Linked DNA regions of Homo sapiens: all the other regions are reported to be linked to region 2. Evidence: microRNA targets listed by miRTarBase, many of them from high-throughput screens and not tested one by one. Region 2 holds a microRNA gene; each other region holds the end of a gene's coding sequence. Distances are between the middles of the regions.

What was found. The annotated mature microRNA hsa-miR-548a-5p reads AAAAGUAAUUGCGAGUUUUACC and lies in region 2 at 2,771-2,792, shown strand. An mRNA with a match to its seed (bases 2 to 7 or 8) in the 3' UTR can be bound and repressed. Matches are read on the target gene's strand: a 7mer-m8 pairs with bases 2 to 8, a 7mer-A1 pairs with bases 2 to 7 and ends in A, and an 8mer does both.
Region 1: miRTarBase lists LIPA as a target of hsa-miR-548a-5p. Seed matches in the 3' UTR shown: 8mer at 1,647-1,654.
Region 3: the mRNA of HMBOX1 is a reported target of hsa-miR-548a-5p. Seed matches in the 3' UTR shown: 7mer-A1 at 2,050-2,056 and 7mer-m8 at 1,990-1,996.
Region 4: miRTarBase lists THRAP3 as a target of hsa-miR-548a-5p. Seed matches in the 3' UTR shown: 7mer-m8 at 1,992-1,998.
Region 5: the mRNA of CELSR3 is a reported target of hsa-miR-548a-5p. Seed matches in the 3' UTR shown: 7mer-m8 at 1,710-1,716 and 7mer-m8 at 1,795-1,801.

The regions. Positions count from the first base shown.
Region 1 is chr10:89,211,224-89,215,341 of GRCh38, reverse strand. LIPA (lipase A, lysosomal acid type) reads left to right here. Exons shown (of 10, transcript NM_000235.4): 10 at 281-1,770. The coding sequence ends at 514. Among named protein-coding and RNA genes, the nearest start is that of CH25H, 6.0 kb to the right of the region's middle.
Region 2 is chr8:104,483,101-104,487,211 of GRCh38, reverse strand. MIR548A3 (microRNA 548a-3) reads left to right here and starts at 2,747; the gene lies at 2,747-2,843. It overlaps LOC105375691 (a long non-coding RNA gene), which reads right to left. Exons shown (of 3, transcript XR_928507.3): 3 at 2,925-2,963.
Region 3 is chr8:29,050,382-29,054,499 of GRCh38, reverse strand. HMBOX1 (homeobox containing 1) reads right to left here. Exons shown (of 10, transcript NM_001135726.3): 10 at 1,238-3,482. The coding sequence ends at 3,345. Among named protein-coding and RNA genes, the nearest start is that of HMBOX1, 160 kb to the right of the region's middle.
Region 4 is chr1:36,303,235-36,307,350 of GRCh38, forward strand. It overlaps THRAP3 (thyroid hormone receptor associated protein 3), which reads left to right. Exons shown (of 12, transcript NM_005119.4): 12 at 562-2,123. The coding sequence ends at 783. SH3D21 (SH3 domain containing 21) reads left to right here and starts at 3,134. Exons shown (of 16, transcript NM_001162530.2): 1 at 3,134-3,190; 2 at 3,364-3,521; 3 at 3,608-3,671; 4 at 3,933-4,051. The coding sequence starts at 3,187. RefSeq lists silencers at 3,175-3,224, 3,445-3,884 and enhancers at 3,382-4,116, 3,985-4,034.
Region 5 is chr3:48,634,738-48,638,855 of GRCh38, reverse strand. CELSR3 (cadherin EGF LAG seven-pass G-type receptor 3) reads left to right here. Exons shown (of 35, transcript NM_001407.3): 35 at 624-2,393. The coding sequence ends at 651. SLC26A6 (solute carrier family 26 member 6) reads left to right here and starts at 3,395. Exons shown (of 21, transcript NM_022911.3): 1 at 3,395-3,485. The coding sequence starts at 3,463. RefSeq lists silencers at 3,187-3,466, 3,857-3,956.

The sequences.
Region 1 (4,118 bases), not on the chromosome of region 2:
ACACCTTCCTTGCCGGGGATTAAACATTCATTTTGGTGCCCAGCCTACGGCAGCAGCTCCACAGCTAGTGGCGATTATAATTAGCATTCTCTCATTTGGGGTTAGATTTCTTTTTTTGTGCCGGTAATGGCAACTTGAAAAGATACTCAAAGAGATTTTAAAAATTTAGTCTGTTAGTCAAACTTACTAGACAATGTTTAATGGAGATTGCGCTTATTGTGATTTTGAAAATTAAAACAACAACAACAACGAGGCTTTCTCTGGTTCCTTTTCATTGTAGAGTTATCCTCCCACATACAATGTGAAGGACATGCTTGTGCCGACTGCAGTCTGGAGCGGGGGTCACGACTGGCTTGCAGATGTCTACGACGTCAATATCTTACTGACTCAGATCACCAACTTGGTGTTCCATGAGAGCATTCCGGAATGGGAGCATCTTGACTTCATTTGGGGCCTGGATGCCCCTTGGAGGCTTTATAATAAAATTATTAATCTAATGAGGAAATATCAGTGAAAGCTGGACTTGAGCTGTGTACCACCAAGTCAATGATTATGTCATGTGAAAATGTGTTTGCTTCATTTCTGTAAAACACTTGTTTTTCTTTCCCAGGTCTTTTGTTTTTTTATATCCAAGAAAATGATAACTTTGAAGATGCCCAGTTCACTCTAGTTTCAATTAGAAACATACTAGCTATTTTTTCTTTAATTAGGGCTGGAATAGGAAGCCAGTGTCTCAACCATAGTATTGTCTCTTTAAGTCTTTTAAATATCACTGATGTGTAAAAAGGTCATTATATCCATTCTGTTTTTAAAATTTAAAATATATTGACTTTTTGCCCTTCATAGGACAAAGTAATATATGTGTTGGAATTTTAAAATTGTGTTGTCATTGGTAAATCTGTCACTGACTTAAGCGAGGTATAAAAGTACGCAGTTTTCATGTCCTTGCCTTAAAGAGCTCTCTAGTCTAACGGTCTTGTAGTTAGAGATCTAAATGACATTTTATCATGTTTTCCTGCAGCAGGTGCATAGTCAAATCCAGAAATATCACAGCTGTGCCAGTAATAAGGATGCTAACAATTAATTTTATCAAACCTAACTGTGACAGCTGTGATTTGACACGTTTTAATTGCTCAGGTTAAATGAAATAGTTTTCCGGCGTCTTCAAAAACAAATTGCACTGATAAAACAAAAACAAAAGTATGTTTTAAATGCTTTGAAGACTGATACACTCAACCATCTATATTCATGAGCTCTCAATTTCATGGCAGGCCATAGTTCTACTTATCTGAGAAGCAAATCCCTGTGGAGACTATACCACTATTTTTTCTGAGATTAATGTACTCTTGGAGCCCGCTACTGTCGTTATTGATCACATCTGTGTGAAGCCAAAGCCCCGTGGTTGCCCATGAGAAGTGTCCTTGTTCATTTTCACCCAAATGAAGTGTGAACGTGATGTTTTCGGATGCAAACTCAGCTCAGGGATTCATTTTGTGTCTTAGTTTTATATGCATCCTTATTTTTAATACACCTGCTTCACGTCCCTATGTTGGGAAGTCCATATTTGTCTGCTTTTCTTGCAGCATCATTTCCTTACAATACTGTCCGGTGGACAAAATGACAATTGATATGTTTTTCTGATATAATTACTTTAGCTGCACTAACAGTACAATGCTTGTTAATGGTTAATATAGGCAGGGCGAATACTACTTTGTAACTTTTAAAGTCTTAAACTTTTCAATAAAATTGAGTGAGACTTATAGGCCCAAAGAATTGTGTGTATGTTTTTTCTCTTTTATTTAACAGTCATCCGGTTCTTCCCTTTCTCTCTTGGCAGTACTTGGAACTCTTCTCAAGGTTAATGTGTTTACTCCGGGAAATGAAGGGCTACCAAGTAACGAGTGATTTTTAAAAATCATTTTTTTGTATGCCACAAGAGGGCACTCTTGGCTTTGCTTGCAAATCTTCCCACGCTCTCTTCCCTCACTACTTTTTCTTTTCTTTTCTTTTCTTTTCTTTTCTTTTCTTTTCTTTTCTTTTCTTTTCTTTATTATTATTATACTTTAAGTTTTAGGGTACATGTGCACAATGTGCAGGTTAGTTACATATGTATACATGTGCCATGCTGGTGTGCTGCACCCATTAACTCGTCATTTAGCATTATCTCCTAAAGCTATCCCTCCTACCTCCCCCCACCCCACAACAGTCCCCAGAGTGTGATGTTCCCCTTCCTGTGTCCATGTGTTCTCATTGTTCAATTCCCACCTATGAGTGAGAATATGCGGTGTTTGGTTTTTTTTTCTTGGGATAGTTTACTGAGATTGATGATTTCCAATTTCATCCACGTCCCTACAAAGGACATGAACTCATCATTTTTTATGGCTGCATAGCATTCCATGGTGTATATGTGCCACATTTTCTTAATCCAGTCTATCATTGTTGGACATTTGGGTTGGTTCCAAGTCTTTGCTATTGTGAATAGTGCCGCAATAAACATACGTGTGCATGTGTCTTTATAGCAGCATGATTTATAGTCCTTTGGGTATATACCCAGTAATGGGATGGCTGGGTCAAATGGTATTTCTAGTTCTAGATCCCTGAGGAATCGCCACACTGACTTCCACAATGGTTGAACTAGTTTACAGTCCCACCAACAGTGTAAAAGTGTTCCTATTTCTCCACATCCTCTCCAGCACCCGTTGTTTCCTGACTTTGTAATGATTTCCATTCTAACTGGTGTGAGATGGTATCTCATTGTGGTTTTGATTTTCATTCCTCTGATGGCCAGTGATGGTGAGCATTTTTTCATGTGTTTTTTGGCTGCATAAATGCCTTCTTTTGAGAAGTGTCTGTTCATGTCCTCACTACTTTTTCTAAGATTTTCTCCAGCATCTACCAGGGAAGGTAGAGAACTTTGTTGCTTTCTGAGCCAGTTGGAATTTGATGGCCAGCCATGGTAGTATTATTTCTGTTCAGGAGTATAATTAATTCTTGCCTAGTGGATAACATCTGGAAAACGTTCTCAAGGAATACCTGCCCCTCAAATGTAAACTGAAAATAAAAATTTGCCTAATAGGTAAATGAGTGATCAGAACTTCAGATGTGGTTGGGGGATGGGTGGCAGGAGGAAAAGGTTTTAACTCAGGCCTCACACATATATAGGACTGAAATTTAGACTAGTGACATCCCCAAATAATGATTATTTTGTGTTTGTGGGTATTAAAGGTGTTAATTTTTTAAATATAAACATTAAAAATACACTGTAATGTGATTTCTTGTCATTAATTTTTCAATGTATTAAGAGATTTTCAAAAGATAAGTCACTCTGATCTGTTGTGACACTGAAAGGCAACTTTGAATAGTAATTATTCTGATTTTTAAAAAGTTACCCAATCAGTATTTCATTATGTTGCGCTAGGTGCAGATTTGAACTTCAATTCCAAATTAAGCAAGCAAAACTCTTTGTCAAATTGTCTTAGCATTACTGAAAATAATACTTCACATTTTGTGTTGTGCCTTACGGGGTTTCAAAGCCTTTTCATAAAGCTTTAATATTTGCAATAATCCCTTTGACAGGTGAGGCGAGCATTTGTTTCTCTACAGGCAAGGGAATGCCTTTTTAATGGGGATGATTTTATATGCCTTAAAAGTTTCAGAGAGGTTGATGAGAGTTTCAACAGTATAAGTGAGTAGAAGCGCCCACTTAAATGCGACATGTAAGTGGATCAGAATAGAAAGTGTTTAAAACCAAATATGCACCAGTATTTGGACTAATAGGAGCATCAGGAGAGTGTCTGGAGGAAGCTAACATCCCCATGTTCTTTATCAGCATCTCCTATTGTTTTTGGCACGGCTAATTAATGTTTTCTGAGTCTTTTGTAAAGTGTCACATAAAAGCAGCTTCAATGACCCCTTCCAATACCAAACTCCTCCTGAAGAGATACTTACCTTGGAACCAACCCTGGCCCTTTTCTGCTCAGTTTGGCTGTAACTTGCTTTTTATCCCTAGCTAGCCTTGTCTTGACTTTTCTGAGACTGAATTTTTAATCTTCAGTCTTTAAAATGAAGGATTAGATTTTGATATTCGAGATCATTCCACCTCTATGAGTCTTCCCTGT
Region 2 (4,111 bases):
TGTTGGTATCATCTAGGTAATTAATCCATGTAGTTTTTATATCCTATCTGGATCAGGAACCATCCATTTAATCCCAAGTTTTCAAATTTATTTGCCTAGTTGAGGAAAGTTAACTCTTCGTCTTCTATGCATGTGGATGTTGCCCCTTAGTTTGTATTATGCTTTCTCCCTTATTTTCTTTTTTTTTTTTTTTTTTTTTTTTTTTTTTTGAGACGGAGTGTCGCTCTGTCGCCCAGGCTGGAGTACAGTGGCACGATCTCTGCTCACTGCAAGCTCTGCCTTCCAGATTCATGCCATTCTCCTGCATCAACGTCGTAAGTAGCTGGGACTACAGGCGCCCGCCACCAGGCCCGGCTAATTTTTTTGTATTTTTAGTAGAGACGGGGTTTCACCGTATTAGCCAGGATGGTCTCGATCTCCTAACCTCGTGATCCGCCTGCCTCGGCCTCCCAAAGTTTCTCCCTTATTTTCTTGATAAAGGTAGCTAACAGTTTACCTACTTTTTTAATTGTGTATTTTTTTATTTTCCCCAAACCGCTTGGATGTCTCTATTCTGTAATTTTGTTCTTTCTAATTAGTTGATTTCCACTTTAATAAGTTTTCCACATTTTGCTTTCCTTGGTTTATTTTGTTTTTTTCTAACTCGAGTTAGCATGTAATTTATTTTTACTTCTTAATTCTTAAGAAGAGATGAAGACATGGACTTAAGTGTGAGCACTGCTTAAGGCGAATCATTTGGCTGCATTAATGTCATTACTGTTATTTTCTAAATGTTCTTAAGTTTCAGTTTTGATACCTTCTTTAATCCAAAAGTTGTATAAAAGAAGTTTTTTTCTTTGCTTTTTTTTCTAGATAATGATAATTTTTTGGTGTGAGTCTTAGTTTTGTTTTCTGATTCTTTTCATTTTATGGCATCAAAAACAGAATGTTAAGAGTATATGTGTTGGGGGGGCGGTTATTGTCTTTCAATTTTTAAATGTCCCAAGAGCACTTTTAGAAAGTGTGTTATTTCTTTACAGGATACAGATTTTAGTGGGAGTTACTCAGATTTTAGATCTTCTCAACAGGATACAGTCCTTTGTCTTGTCAGTCAGAGCACCAATATTAGTAGGGAAGAGAATGGAAACAAAAGGAGCTGTTATCAGAAGGGATCTATGGGCCAGAAGCCCTGTTACTGGCTCATGTCATACACTAGCACTAAGAATATAAAAGCACAGGATGAAGGGGTCTTTCAATAAGCTGTTGAGGTTTTAATTCTCACTACTGCTTACCACCGTCATCCACTGTTCATCTGGAAATAAGTGGGTAAGACAGGCTAAATGGGATAAAGGAAGAACAAGTTCATTGAATTCTCTAAGTGTTTATTGAGCACCTACAACAGACCCAGCAATGTTCACAGCAGTTTACAGCGGCCCTCCTTTCACCTGCTCCACCATTCCCTCACACCTTTTCCCCCAAATTTCCAGGGGAGAAGATGACAGCAACTTGATAGGACCTGCTTTACTCAGGAAGGTCCCTGTTTAAAAATTAGTAGAAGCAGGCAGTAGAGAGAAAGGCCTTTTCTCTGAATACCTGAACTCTTCTTCAGGAATAGCATACAAATTGCAAATTGTATATAGTTATTGGCATGAGCTGATAGCTGGCTGTGATTGCATTTGTTTCCTAAGGTAATCAACATTCAAGGTAGACAAAGGATGCTAAGTAAAATTCACAGAATTTTAGAGCTGGAAGGAATCTTAAAATGAAGTAACAGACATAGCTGTTTAGTCGGGAATTTTCTAGACTTAAATCAATTATATACCCATATTATGTTATACATACAGGTAAACATAGGCCATGTATGCATACATGGTTTACCATCATGTGATGTCATGAGGTTTTTTCCTATTAGAAGTCAGGCCATTCTGACATTTTTGCACGTGCCTGCTCCTAAATGAGTGCATCCCACACCGTGATGGTATTCACACCATCAAATGCTATTCTGCGAGCCTTTTACCACCAGCTGCTTCTGCATTATAGGAATTTTCAAAGCAATAATATTTGCCCATTGTTGAGTGCCTATCACCTGCCAATTTCTTTATATGTATCCTTGGAATCTTCACAGTCCTGTGAAGTAACAAACTTACCTTCTATTTATCCAAGGTCATATAGCCAATAAGGGCAGAACTAAGATTTAACCTTAGTCGTGCCTGACTCAACAGCTGTGAATAAGATGGATCATAAAGTGAAGTAAGATTTATCAGGAGAAATATCTATCAAGCTGGAGTTGACAGACCTGGATTATTATGCCAACTCACTGAGCCTCAGCTTTGTCATCTTGAGGTAAGGATAATAGCTTCTTCATAAGATCATTGTGAGGAATAAAGATAACGTGTAAAGGCCTTAGCACTTGTTCTGTCCATCTATTGCTGCATAAAAAACTACCCCCAAACTTTGTGCTTAAAGCAACCACAATCATTCAGTTTTCTCACAAATCAATAATGTGGGCAGAGCTCAGTGGTATTGGCTCATTCTGCTCCTCTTGGCCTCTGCTGGAGTTGGAGAATATACTCCCCAAAGAACTCACCTGAGTGACTGGCAGGTTTGTGCTGCCTGTCAGCTGGGTGCTCAGCCAGGAGCCTGGGATCCTCTTCATATGAGTCTCCTCAAGGTTGCTTATGTTTCCTTAGAGCATGGAAGCTGGACCCAAGAATGAATGTTACAGTATACAGAAGCTGCAAGGCTCTTATGACAGAGTCTCAGACATCCTAGAATGTTATTAGGTCGGTGCAAAAGTAATTGCGAGTTTTACCATTACTTTCAATGGCAAAACTGGCAATTACTTTTGCACCAACGTAATACTTCTGCCACATTCTACGTGTCAAATCACTGGCCAACCCAGATTCAGTAGGAAAAGAAATAGACTCACCTCTAAATAAAAGGAATAGCAGGTAAGTCATTCCATCTTTACCCCAGCACAGTACCTAATACATAGCAAGAAACATTAAGTTGCCATTATTAATATTTTAAGTAGAAAAAGTTTTACAGCCTTAGAAATGTATTTGCTAAAAGGATATAAAATTAACTCTGCTCCACTGTCATGTCAGGCATGTATGTGTATCTCATATCTGTTTATTACAAATACAAGGATAAAACAATTTGCCTTAGCATATTCAGTCAGAAATCACAGCATTGATGCAATTTTAAATAAACATATTTAGGCAGTTGGTAAAATTTAAAGATTAGCAGTTATTTCTCTACATTTAAAATAACTTGTATTAATATTTCAACATGTTGTAACCTATAAAATGTTTATTTTAAAATTGCTTAGAGGCAACAGTATAGTGCGTAAAAGTCTGGAGTCAGATTGCTTGGATTCTAATTTCTGTCCAACTCCTTACTGGCATGTGCCTTTCAGGAAGTCAATCACCTGTACTTCCATTCTTCATCTGTAAAATGGGGATAATAGGGCTACTGGAGGATCAAACAAATTAATATACATAATGCTCTGGGAACAGCATTGTAATATACACATAGCAGCTCTTGGCTTATAGTAGGTGCTGTGTAACTGTTTGCTATTATTGTCATTGTTTAAATGTTAAAACATCTGACCAGGTACGGTGGCTCATGCCTGTAATCCCAGCACTTTGACAGGCCAGGTGGGCAGATCACCTGAGGTCAGGAGTTCAAGACCAGCCTGGCCAACATGGTGAAACCCTGTCTCTATTAAAAATACAAAAATTAGCCGGGTGTGGTGGTGCATGCCTGTAATCCCAGCTACTTGGGAGGCTGAGGCGGGAGGATTGCTTGAACCCGGGAGGTGGAGGTTGCAGGATCCGAGATCACACCACTGCACTCCAGCCTGGGTGACAGAGCAAGACTCCGTCTCAAAAAAATCTCTGAATCTTACATTTAAATAAGCTATCGTACATGAAAAGTTCTAAAATAATAGTGGTTTCTGAAGAGAAATAGAAACAGATCATTTTCCATTTCTTATGTGTGCTTATTCCTGGGATCATGAAAGTGAATTGCAACCCAGAACAAAGGTCAATAAGAGAGCAGGGGAGAAGAAAGGATAACAGCCCACTTGTGATAAGTTAATAGAATTCCAAGACCAAGCAGACACAGATGA
Region 3 (4,118 bases), 75 Mb from region 2:
TCCCTGTGTCAGTGCTTTTAAAGTTTGGAAAGTTTACCCATCTGACCATAGTAATTCAATTAAGGTGTCTTTAAAGAAATAACAAATTATATGAATACCTGTTGGCAAGTTCCCCCACACCCCACTTCAAAAGACCTTTGAAAGTCCTCCTCGACAGGAAGGAACAGCCCCTGCGGGAGTCCCCTGGGGCCTGAAGGAGAGAGTGAAGTACAACGGGAGGGGCGGAACAACCAAGAAGCATACAGTGTGAGTTTTTAGAGCCTGGCTGCTTTCCCTTCAGTAATACGGAAGTTTAGGGTTTCTATTTTAATTCCACCTCTAAAACCTGAAAAAGCCTAAGAGAGAAATATACTACCTAAAGACACTAGAAATAAATATAACAGTAGCAGCGCCACACACCATTACAAGAACCAAGGTGGCCTGGACAAAATGGCAGAATTGAACTTGGTGACAAACAGAAAACTAACAGGTTTAAATCTAGGCCCAAAGGAAGTAAATTCTCACTCTTGGTGAAAAAGCAAAAGTGACATGTAAGGCAGTGGGTCTTCAGAGCAGCCAGCGGTCTTCTCCAATGACAAGAACAACTGTGGGTGGAAGATGCCTTCCTCCTGTTCCCACTGAGCTCTCCAGGACATTCTCCTGCAGTGGTAGAAATATTCTTTCAGTTTTACCACATTGCCATATAGGGTCTGGTACTGCCCTTCATGGATGCGAACTTGCCTTTATTCTCTGAAGCTTTTTTTCTCCCTTAAAGGTGTTAAAACAATGAAACCTTTGAGTGCATCCACGGCAATCTTTGTATTTCTTTAGAAACTGCAGCTGTCTTAACAGTTTGAGTCAGTCTGTTCCTTTAAAAAGACCAGCAAGTACAAATGATACTAGCAATCCCATGATAAAGAAGCTATCAATTATAATAATCCCCTTACAATCAATCATGGATGTGGCTTGTCAGAGCGGATTTTTTCTCTGTCTCCTTGTACTTTCTGATTCAATTGAGAATAAGCGTCAAAATTCCACAAAAATGGGACTATGTTACATTTCCTCTAAGCAAAATAAAAGGAAAGGAAGAGAACGTAATCTCCTAATTGAAATAAAAAGATAAACCAAAAAAGAATATGAGTCGGTGGGGGGGGGGCGGTGGGAGGCTCATTCCTGAGAATAACAAATGCTACTCTTGAATTTGTTGGTTCAAGTAATACAGTAAAACAGAAGAGACGGCTCCACTTCACTTCAATGCTTGGAAGCTGAAAAAAGTACATATATTTTTTCCCCCTGAAATCCATGGACAAAAGTGGGACCAGGCCCTGCATATAGCTCTTTAAAGTCACAGACATATATAAGGTGGCACTTTCATGCCCTCTCAAAGACTTTCCTCACACTCACATAAGCAGGATTAACAGATAAGGAAATGATGCAGTCAGCGTGTGCCTTAAGTGGAAGGAAACCAACTACAAACTGGCGGATATTCAGTATCTCCTGAATGAGAAAGGGAAAACTGAGGAAGGTCATTCAGTCTCTCTCTCTCACAGTTTTAAGTTGAATACATTTGGTGGAGGAGGATGGGTGAAGAGGTAAGGAAATGGCACCTTCCTTTTATCTTAGAAATTGTTTTCAGGTAACGGACAAAAAGAAGCCGTGCTTAACATCCAGCCCCACATGCCCCTTTAAACAAGGCTTCATTATACATAGGAGAGATGGAGCGAGGCAGAAAATCCACAGCAGTTGTGCCTCTTTCAGGCGCACCCTGTGCTGCTACATTGAAGGCTCTTTCCTCTTACCCACAGTGACAGTGTGTCATTTAATCGGGATGCCAAGAGATCATTTTCATACAAGGCCAGCAGATGTAATTTTCTTTGATGCATGAATAGTTCATCATTTTGCTACTAGATGACAAGGTGATCACAGGGTGACTTTAGAATGCAAGTTCACTGTTTGGTATTTTGAGTTCTCAAAATGAAAAAAAGATTTATCAAATATAAATATCTTTAAAAAGTAACAAAAGTGCTACATATGTGATCAAGGAAAAAAATTCCATTAGTTACTGCCGCTTAAAGTAGATTAAACTTTACAAATATTACCACATCCATTATCAATATGGCTTCCAATTATTAAATAAATTGCCTGTAGCAATACAGCTTTTCACACCTCTCCAAGGACAGAGTAAAGAGAACAGCAAAGCAGTCCCATCGTGTTCTCATACAGCCACAATGTGAGTAGGAAACGTCCCCTGCTTTTCTCTGCTCCTATCTGGGCAAGTGTCTGCATCTGTGATAAGCAGCACAACCCCACTATGAAGTCCTCTAGTGACCTCTCAGAGTGAGGGGGCTTCCGTTTAATGGATACAAACACTGCAAGTTTTTTCACTCATTTTTGACCTTAGCTCCATCCTTGAAAGACTTTTTTGGTAGCAGGGAAAGGGGACACTGACAGGAGGCAAAGCAACTTCCACGATGACCTCCAAAACTTTTCCAGGCAGGCACTGCTAACTGTGCCGTGGAATGTACAGTGGTTCTGAAAACTGGACTTAGCATCCATTAGACATTCAGCTCATATTTTTTTTTTCCAATGCTCTCAAGCTGGGTTTTTTTTTTTTTTTTTTTTAATGACTTTTGGTTTTTGTCTTTGTTTTTAATCATGGTCCCAAAGGCAGAAGGCAGTATTTTATCTACTAAGTCACACAGCTTGTGAGAGGAAAGGATGTCTGTGTCAGGCATGTTAACTTCAAACAAAATCTGAGATCGGCTTTTTCCATTGACATTCTTAGCACAGCACCCAAAGAAGTATAATCTAGCCACAGTGTGGCTATAATGAGGCACGGCTTATTGCAGCTGGAAATCAATTATCCTCACGCTGAGGTGGGGATTCTAGTGTTCCTTTGACTCTGTGGATACTCCCCAAATGGTGTCTGTCATTCCTGTGCCACGACCTCAGCTTGCATCCTATCAGTCTTGGGGAAGGAAAAGGGAGTACAGACTAGTGTTACAAGAATCTAAAGGTACCCAAGATTTTACACGTAGTCTAATATTTGAGAACTGAGGGCTATCTAAATACCTGGAAGCACTTTCTTGGAATGCTAAGACGGAGCAGCAAGATTTTCTAGCCTCGGGGGCTGGGAGAGGGAAGTTTGGTTGGTTGGTTGGTTATTATTTACTGGGAGTTAATACTGAGAGAGTATATGCAAAGGCTGAGGGCACCATGCCATCTTCACAGAACAAGACCCTAACAGCTACCTGACATACAAGAAACTGCAAGTTATACTGTAAGAACACATGTTAAGGACCGAGGAAAGTCTGCTAAGGTGCTACGTCTAAACTAAGTTAACTTGTCATGTTTAACCTCCCTGATCAGTCATCATCCAGGGCCTCTGTCTTGATTTCGTTGGCTCCTTGTCGGGCCAATGCCAAGATAGTGTGGTTGACTGCTGCCATTTCCACAGCTAATGAGATGGGGTCTTGGTGGTCACTATGGCTCGTACTGTCATCCTAGATGTGCAGAAATAAGAAATGTTATTAGTGGATTGGAAGAATTCTTTAGTCACAGAGAGACATGCTGGGGCAAGGGGAGGCAGAACATTCGTGGGAGGAAACTGGGGGAGGGGCTCATGATAAAATAGAGGTAAATTGTATTTAAGTAGACACTGAATGGATATAGGTCCAAAGATTTTCAGTTGATAATCTTATGATTCAACAAGTAAAAAGCACAAAAAATGTTTTTCATCACTGAGAATTCTATTCATTCTATTAATAAGATTGCTGGTGATGATGATCAAACCTGCAGTGATTGATATAAAACCAACAATTTGGATCTTTCTGTTTGTAACAAATATAGCACTAATCACTGAAGGCCATACTAGTGAGCTATTAAATTCCAGATTGCTGCTCTTACAAATAGATTATTAGAATTCATGGTCCCTCTCTGAACTGAGAAAACTAGACAGAACTTACAATTACATCTTACAGATAAAAAATGCATTTTTGTAAAAAAAGAAAAAAAGAATTCTCCATTACAACAGGACACATGTCACTGCCAGAAACGGCTACGGGAGAAAGGGGAGGAAGGTGTCGAGCTCTCCTGCTGCAGGCAGCTGTGCAAGGGGAGCGGCAGGCGTCTTACCTAGA
Region 4 (4,116 bases), not on the chromosome of region 2:
ATTACAGGCATGAGCCACTGCACCCAGCCGCATTGCCTCCTTTCTTAGCTGCCTAACAACCCAGTTCACATGGAGTTGCACGTTTTGGTGTGATTGGCTTTCTCAAACCCACCCTTTGAGAGAGGATATACTAAATCATATGGAGTTGCTTAAAGTTCCTAAGCTTTAAGCACGTTTGCAGAGTGGGAGGTGATAATGATAGGGTAGATAGGAGAATTAAATGAGATAGTACATAAATGTCTTACTTCAGTGCTCAGTGACGTTTTTATTTTCTTTAAACTATTAAGGGTTCTTGCTCAGTGAATCATCATCATTGTCAATCATCGTTACAATGCCCAAGCTGTTACCTTAAAATTCCTAAATCACCCAACTGATATTCTCATGGATCTGAACCACTGGCATTTTTGGAGTGGGGGACAGGGAGAAGTGCAGAAAAGGATCAAAAGGCTGGGTTAGGGCACAGGTTCTTTTGGGAAAGGCACATTTGGGTGCGTGCAGAGAAGAGAGCTCTGGCCACATCTTGTTCACTCTGGCACTGATGGCAATTTTCTTTCCCCTCAGCATGATGACCGTGAAGGCGAAGGCAGTGACAAGTGGGTGAGCCGGGGCCGGGGCCGAGGAGCCTTTCCTCGGGGTCGGGGCCGGTTCATGTTCCGGAAATCAAGTACCAGCCCCAAGTGGGCCCATGACAAGTTCAGTGGGGAGGAAGGGGAGATTGAAGACGACGAGAGTGGGACAGAGAACCGAGAAGAGAAGGACAATATACAGCCCACAACCGAGTAGGGGCCACCCTTGACGGGATTCCTGCCCAGGGGAGAGAGGCGCTGGGAAGATGGCTGGTGAGGAGCTTAACAGAGGAACCTCAAGAAGATTCTGAAAATCCTACCCCCACCCCCCACCAGCCGCACAGATTGTACTACCGCGAGAGGCATCCCTGGCGCTGTCTCCCACTGGACAGAGGAGGCTGGCCATGGGGCCCAGGGGTCAGGCCCAGCTTTTGAGCAGAATACAACGCATTGGGCTTTAGCTGTTTTTCTCATTTGTTGGTGTGTGGGGTGGGGGCAGGGGTAGGGCGGGAGAGCGATGCTTGGATTTTTGTTTCCTATTAGAAACCAACAGTTTTGTTCTAATTTCATTTCATTTGGAGCTAAGATGACTAATTTGATGATTTTCGATCTCTTTTCCCCTGTCCTGATTTTAAAAGCCCCCTCCTTTTTTTTTTTTTTTTTCTTTTTTTAGGCATATGTAGTAATATTAGAAACATTTAATTTGGGAAACTTTGATTCTTGAAAGAGAAAACAAAAGCATGTGAATAAACTTTGAAGTGTTCACCTCAGTTTGGGACCAAACTGCTTGGATCTTTGTAAAAACCGGTTTTGTATGTCAAGGAGGAGTTTAAGGCCTTTCCGACCACCTTGTGTTCCCCTTTTCTGCGCAGCCATGTATCACGTGGAGTTGCTCCTTACCACACCTCACGTGCCCCTGAGCCCTATTTCCTGATTTCTTCTGGGCTGGACTTCCCCGTTCTCCACCAGCAGCTCCAGTATCCCAAACTTTCTAGTCCTGCTGATCCTCCCAGCAACGGGGTGGAAACTGGAGGGCAGTGTCTGGTCTGTTTTCTAAGAAACTTATGAATTCTATTATCTTTACAAATATGAGAAAATTTTTTCAATATTTTTTATTAATCTTTTTATAAAATGAAAAGAAACTCCTATGATCGATTAAGGAAGGTGGTTATGGCTGGGTGGTTCAGGGGTTTTTTTGGGTTTCTTTTTTTTTTTCTTTGTCTTTTTAACCTTAAGCTGTTTAAGTTGAAGCATTCTCAGATGTTTGGGGGGAAACATCCTCTTAAAATGGGTCCTTGTGCTTGCCTTCTGGGGAGGCGGTCCTGAGCAGGTGAATCATAAGGCATTTATGCATATGTTATATGCGGACTGCACCCACCTCTCCCCCCCAGCCTTTGCCTCTTGCGTTGTTGTGCTGCTTTCCCCTTACTTTGCTACATTTCTATAGTTAAGTTGGTTTTACTTGAATGATTCATGTTTAGGGGGAAAATGAAAATCTCCCTTAAAATTTGTTTCAACTCCTCCTGCAAATAAAATAAATGAAGTGGCAGATGTAAACGGGTTCTGTTCATTGTCATCCTGAGTGTGTGTGTGTGTTGAGGGTGGTAGATAACTTCCCACGGCAGTTTCAGAAAACCTGAAAGACAAAGGGCCTGTGGGGCCTTGCGCAGGCTGCTGGAGTCCCAGACAGACACAGTCCTTCCTGGGAGGAGCATTGTGTACCTTGGACACCCCAGGAGAAACAGATTTTTTCCACTGGTGTCATAGGCAAGGACTTTGGCTTCCTTCATCATGGTGGTGGGGCAGGGATCAAGGGATGTGGTTAGTAGGCTCAGCCTTCTACCTGAAAGAGCCTATCCCACATGGACTGGCCATAGGGTGGGCCCTAACCTTCAGACTCCTGCCGGCTGGGGACTCAACTGTGAGCAGAAATCTTGGAAGCTGGTAAAATTCATTCTCCCGGCCTAACTCCCAGGGAAAACCTGGAGGTGTTTTCTGAAACCAAACTAGACCTCTGGCCCCAAAGCAGGGGTCTTTGCTGTGTCCTTCCTATATGGGGGTAGAGAGTGGGTACGGGGCCAGAGAGGAGTACGCCTTGAAGGAAAGCAGACTGGAAGTGTCCACTCAAAGCTATTGCTGGTACAAGGGCAGCCACTTCATTCACTCAAGGCCGGTTTAGAGCGGTTGCTACTTGCTGGGGGGCCCCACCCTGGTATGTGCCTCTCCCCACCTTTTCCCCTCAAGCCAAAAGCTTGTGAGCTGGGGAAGGGTGGGCCTGGAAAGGCTCTGTGCAAATTGTAGCTGGGAGCCTCCGGGCAAAAGCTGAGGGAAAGGGAGAGGCGGCTGGCCTAAAATTTAGGTGGGCGGAAGAACCTGTGACGGAGCTGTGACCGCTGCACAGGCCAGAGACCCTGGAGTCCTCCTCACCCCGGGGTTGGGGGCCGGACCTGCTGAGCCGGGCCGCCCCCTCTCCACACCCACTCCCAGCACCTGGCCCGACCTATCGGCTGGCGGCTACGCCTCCTTTACCCTACTGTCTTGCCTCAGGTCGCACCCTGCGCGGGCCCAGTACTCGGCCGTCAGAGGGAGCTGCCAGGCTCTGGAGGGCGCCCCGGAAACCATGGGTAAGTGCGGAGGCTTTGAGGTGGCCTCTCTCTGCAACCGTGGACATAGCAAGAGCCCACACCACCCCCCGACCCCCGCTGCCCTCTACGGTGCTTGGGGACACGCCCGCCCTAGCCAGGCTGCCCGGCTGGGCCTTTCTGAGCCGCACGCCGGCCCCGTCTTCCGCCCGCAGAAGTCCTCGTCCTGGCCGGATACCGCGCGCAGAAGGAGGACGAGCTGAGTCTGGCGCCCGGGGACGTGGTCCGGCAGGTGCGCTGGGTGCCCGCGCGGGGCTGGCTTCGCGGAGAGTTTGGGGGCCGCTATGGCCTCTTCCCCGAGCGCCTGGTGCAGGTGAGGCCGAGCCAGGGGCGGGCTGTGGGGTCTCAGCGCGCGCCCCCCGGGAGCTGAGAGCGCCTTCCCCGTGCCCTGATTCCCAGGAGATCCCAGAGACCCTGCGGGGCTCCGGAGAGGCGCGGAGGCCGCGCTGTGCGCGCCGCCGAGGTGAGCGCAAGGGCGGGGACGGGCGCCGGTGGGCGGGTGCACGGAGCCAGTGCGACCCCGGCGTCTCCGGCTCTTAGTGACGGGCGCGGCTCTGGGCGGGACCTCGGGGCCGCCCTGCGGTCTGTGATTGGTTCTCGAGTGCAATGCTCCGCCCTGGGGCGGGGCTGGAGGGACCAAAGGCTACGTGCGCGCCTTGCGCTTCCCCCAGCTCCTCTGACTGGGGCGTCCGACTGGAGCTCAGCCGCGCTTGTCCGGTGCTAGGTCATCCTGCCAAACACCCGAGGCCCCAAAGATGGTGCAAAGTGAACTTCAGCTACAGCCCAGAGCAGGCGGACGAGCTGAAGCTGCAAGCTGGGGAGATCGTGGAAATGATAAAGGAGGTGAGGGGTGAGGTGATGGGACCGTTTGGGGGAGGATGATGGAACGCGCCTCCCTAGTGAGCGGG
Region 5 (4,118 bases), not on the chromosome of region 2:
CAGGACCCAGGGCAGAGAGAGGACAAAGGAAGGAGGAAAGAGCAGGGGTTTGGGGATCCTGGGGCTTGGGCACTGAGGGCTGCTGGGGGTGGGGACCAGAGGGAGCTAACCCACGGCCTGGGTCCCCCTGCAGTCTAGCTTTGGGGTCTGGCTGTTTGGGAGGTAGACTAGGGACTGAGCAGGGGTCCAGGCTCTGGAGTCGCACAGGTTTGAGTTTGAGCTCTGTGTCTTACCTTACTAGCTGCGTGACCTTAGGCAGAGGCAAGCTTTTCTGGGCCTCAGTTTCCTCATCTGTAAAGAAGTCTGTAGTAACAAACTCTTTGAGATGTGGAAATCTATGAGATAATATCTGTCAAGTGCTCAATATAGCATCTGTAAACAGTAGGTGCTCTTGAAGCACTTAGAGAAAACACCTGGGCAGCCAAGGAGCCTGGCTGAGTCTAGGGGCGCGGAATGGAGGACTCTGAGAACCCTGGAGTGGGCATGAAGGGGCTGGGGGCTAAGAGGCGAGAGCAGTGGTGGAGGCAAGGGAAGCAGCCAGGCCAAATGTGGTGGGGGAGTCCAGAGCCGCCTGACTCGGAGTCCTCTGGGCATCAACCTCTGATTTCCTCATGTGCCTCCAGAGTTCCCAGAAGTGAGGGTCACTCCTGAGGGGATGACGGCGTGGACGAGGAACAGCTGAGGGCGACAGAGGATCTAGGCTAACAGGAGAGACTCCAGGAGTGGGGGCAGATCCCAAGGCAGCCTCCTGCTCCCCAGTGGTGGGTGCCCCAGCTCTACCTGGTGTGGCAGGGCTGAGGCTCCATGTGCATCTGTGAGCATGCGTGTGACAGGTGCAGAGACGGGGGACTGGAGGGAGACTTTTATACGTTTTGTACCTTTGTAACCAGAGAGATGCTTATGTTATTTTTCAGCTTTTCTGTCTCCTGGGGGGTTTGAGGCTGGGCTGGGAGGGGGAGGGAGATAGAGGGAGAGATGCAGTTTGACCCCATTTGGGTCCTGAGCAAACCCTATGCTCATCTCTCTCTCCTTCCTGGGGTGGACTCAGATGGGTGGGACACATGCCTTCCTCCCCCTATTCCACCCCCAAGTTGATCTGAGTATCGTCAGGGGCCCAAAGTACAGAATTGTTCTTTGCTTTTTATTGAATGCTCCAAAGGCCAAACTTCTGGGGCTGGGGGTTGGTCTTGGAAACAGGGGTCCTCTGACTTCCTCATGGGGGCTTGCTCATACCGCCCCTCCTGGTGGATGTGTGTGTTTATTATGTGGAGTCCCTGCCACTTACTGCCTTATGACCTAGGACTGATGCTGTGGGGTGCTGGTGGAGCAGCTGATGTCGTGTTTACAGAGCAAGGCTTCCCTGTCTCCCACGGGGAGGGGCTCGGGCCTCTAGTCAGACATTCCTGCAGAGGGTCGGTGGAGGGGTCATTCACCTGCCCCTGCAGCAAGCAAAAGTTGTCTGTGGTGCCATTTGATTCCCTGACACTGCCCCCTGCTTGAATTGATTCCGAAGGGTAGGGTGGGAAGGTGAGCAAAGGGAGCAGAAACAAGGGAATTCAAGACCCAGAATGTAGGTGCCACTGCCTCCTATGTTTACAGGATCCTCCGTGGCCCTAGGCACCTGGGCTGCAGGAAGTGACTCCGTTCCACTCCTCCTTTATTCCCTTAAAAAGGGAAAAATGACTGTTACGACCCTGTTCACAAAACTCTTACTTTTGCTATTTTGTCTGCTGTCCAGAACTGAAGACTTTAAAATTTTGTTACTGTTTACAAGTCCAGATTCAAAAAATGTTTTTACTTTGTTTACAACTCAAAACTTTGAGTTTTACACTTTGTTTACAGTAGATAATTTTTTTTCCTTTGTTTCCAAGTGAAAGGTAGGGAAAGTGGGAGAGGGACTTGGAGGACCCACCTGTGAGGACCCTGACCTGGCCATCTTGAGGGGTTTTCTAACCCCCAGGTCTCCCAGGCCGAAGGTCAGCCTTGAGTCCCGTTTAACAGCAGATCCAGAAGACCTTGAGAGTAGGCGTCCTCTAACCACGGGGGAGAGTGGCTGTGCAGGGCTGGGGGGTGGTCTGTGCAGACACCTCCTCACCCACCACCCCATGCATACTCTTGGGAAGCAGCTTCCTGGGAGATTAGAAATTCTACTTCCCTGACTGGAGCTAAATCCCACCAGCCAGGACCCAAACTCTCCTTACCGAGAAGGACCCCAGCTCTTGAAGGGCTGAGTGGCCTGCTGGGGGTGGGAGGGTGTCTTTACTATGTCCTAGGTTTCGTAGATGCCCCTCTCTGGGGTTCCCCTCCTCCAGCCCAGCGGCCCTCTTTCCTGTCTGTGTAAATTGTTCCGTGAAGCCGCGCTCTGTTTTGGGAATAAACTTCTATAGAAAACAGTTGTTGCCTTTTCCTGTTGGGGGCTGGGGAGGTAGGATGGAAGCTGTGAATGATTCAAGCCAGACTGACCTTTGGGAGGAATCTGAGCCCCTCCCAAGAATATCCAGCTATTTTTAGCCCATTTCATGGCAGATCTCTTTCACCTTGAAATCTGGCCCCTCACTTTGTAATTGGGGCCTGATGTTGGAGCACAGGTGCTGAAAATAAGGTGCTAAGGAAAACCTCCCCGCTGGTCAAGGCAACGGCAACAGGACTTCCTAATTCTTCAGGGTCTGCAGCCCTGACCCGGCATTTTTTGCCCTCACCTGCGGTGAAACCAACCTGAGGAACTGCTCTTGCAGTTCCTGCCTTGCCCACCCAACAGCACTGACGCCCACCCAACAGCACTGACCCCCACCATTCTCCTCGGCGGCCCGCGCAGTAACCTTCTGGGAGCTACGTCCGGGCTGTGCTTAGTGCAGCGGAGGGGATCCTCCAACCATTTCTGGCCTGGGTGGCCAGAGTTAAAGGGGAGGACTTGGGGACCGTTGGCTCCGGGTCTCAAAGAGATGCGTAGTCGCAGAAAGCCTGCGGGTGGCGCTCTCAGCTGAAGGCAAGAGAGGCCCCACAGACCTGGATCCCCTACGAGTTAAGGCTGGGGTCACCGGCCAGTGGAGTTTCCTTTTCCCACTCCGTGAGCACCTTCCGCCGAGCCAGGACCTGGGATCAGCTCCAACCTACTCAGGGCCTGGGGGCGCGACTGCGGCCAGCCCGGCGCGGGTGCTTAGTTCCAGTTCTGCAGTCCCATCCAGCTCCGGGCAGAGGGCCGGGCGAGCAGCGAGAGGCCTCATAGGCCAGGTCGCCGGGGAGGAAGCGGTTAAATCCTCCTTCTCCAGTCTCTCCCCGCCCGGCGCGCGCCACTTAGGCCCCGCCCCAGCGCGCTGATTGGCCCAAGCCTCCCCGTCCTGCCCCGGGATTAGCCCCCGGGAGAGCGCAGCTGGCCTCACCCGGTCCCGGCGCCGCCTTCCGGAGCGTAGCGGCCTCTAGCTCGAGCAGCAGGAGCAGCCCGCACCGGACAACTTGCGAGCCATGGGGCTGGCGGATGCGTCGGGGTGAGTTCAGCGCACATTCCCGGTGGCCCCGCGCGAGCGCCTCGCTGGAGCAGGCATTCTCCGCTTGCGACGCCTCGCTGGAGCAGGCATTCTCCGCTTGCGACGCCTCGGTTTACCTCTGCTGATTTTCTGCAGGCGGCTGCCCCTCTGCAGCAAGGGGTGGGGGCGGGAGCCGGCGCGACCCCAGTCCCTTGGGCTGTGCGGAAAGCCGCTGGTGTGACGCCCGAGGGCCATCCCGGGCCACAGGGAGGCAGCTGCGTGCGGAGGAGCCCGGCCAGGAGATGTGCCGGCGGGGGTGCGTGGGGCACGGGAGTCCCTGGCAGCGGCCCGTGGACTAGCTGCTTTCAGCTGAGTCCCGAGTCCACCCAGCTCCACTGATCCCGGAGTGAGCGCTCCGGCCTTTCTGGCCCCAGTTGCCTTCCTACAGGGAGGGGCCAATGATCAAGGCTCCGCCCTCCAAACGCGGGTCCCAAGTTGTCGGGGGAGGGAGCCCTTTAAGAAGACCTGAGTGACTCACGTAGGAAAGGAGAGGGGGCTCTACGATCTCCTTGAGATAGCGGTCCCAAGAGTCTCTGAGGATCTTCCTTGCACCCACTCCACACTCCTCCAACAGTACAGCCAGGTTAGAGGCGC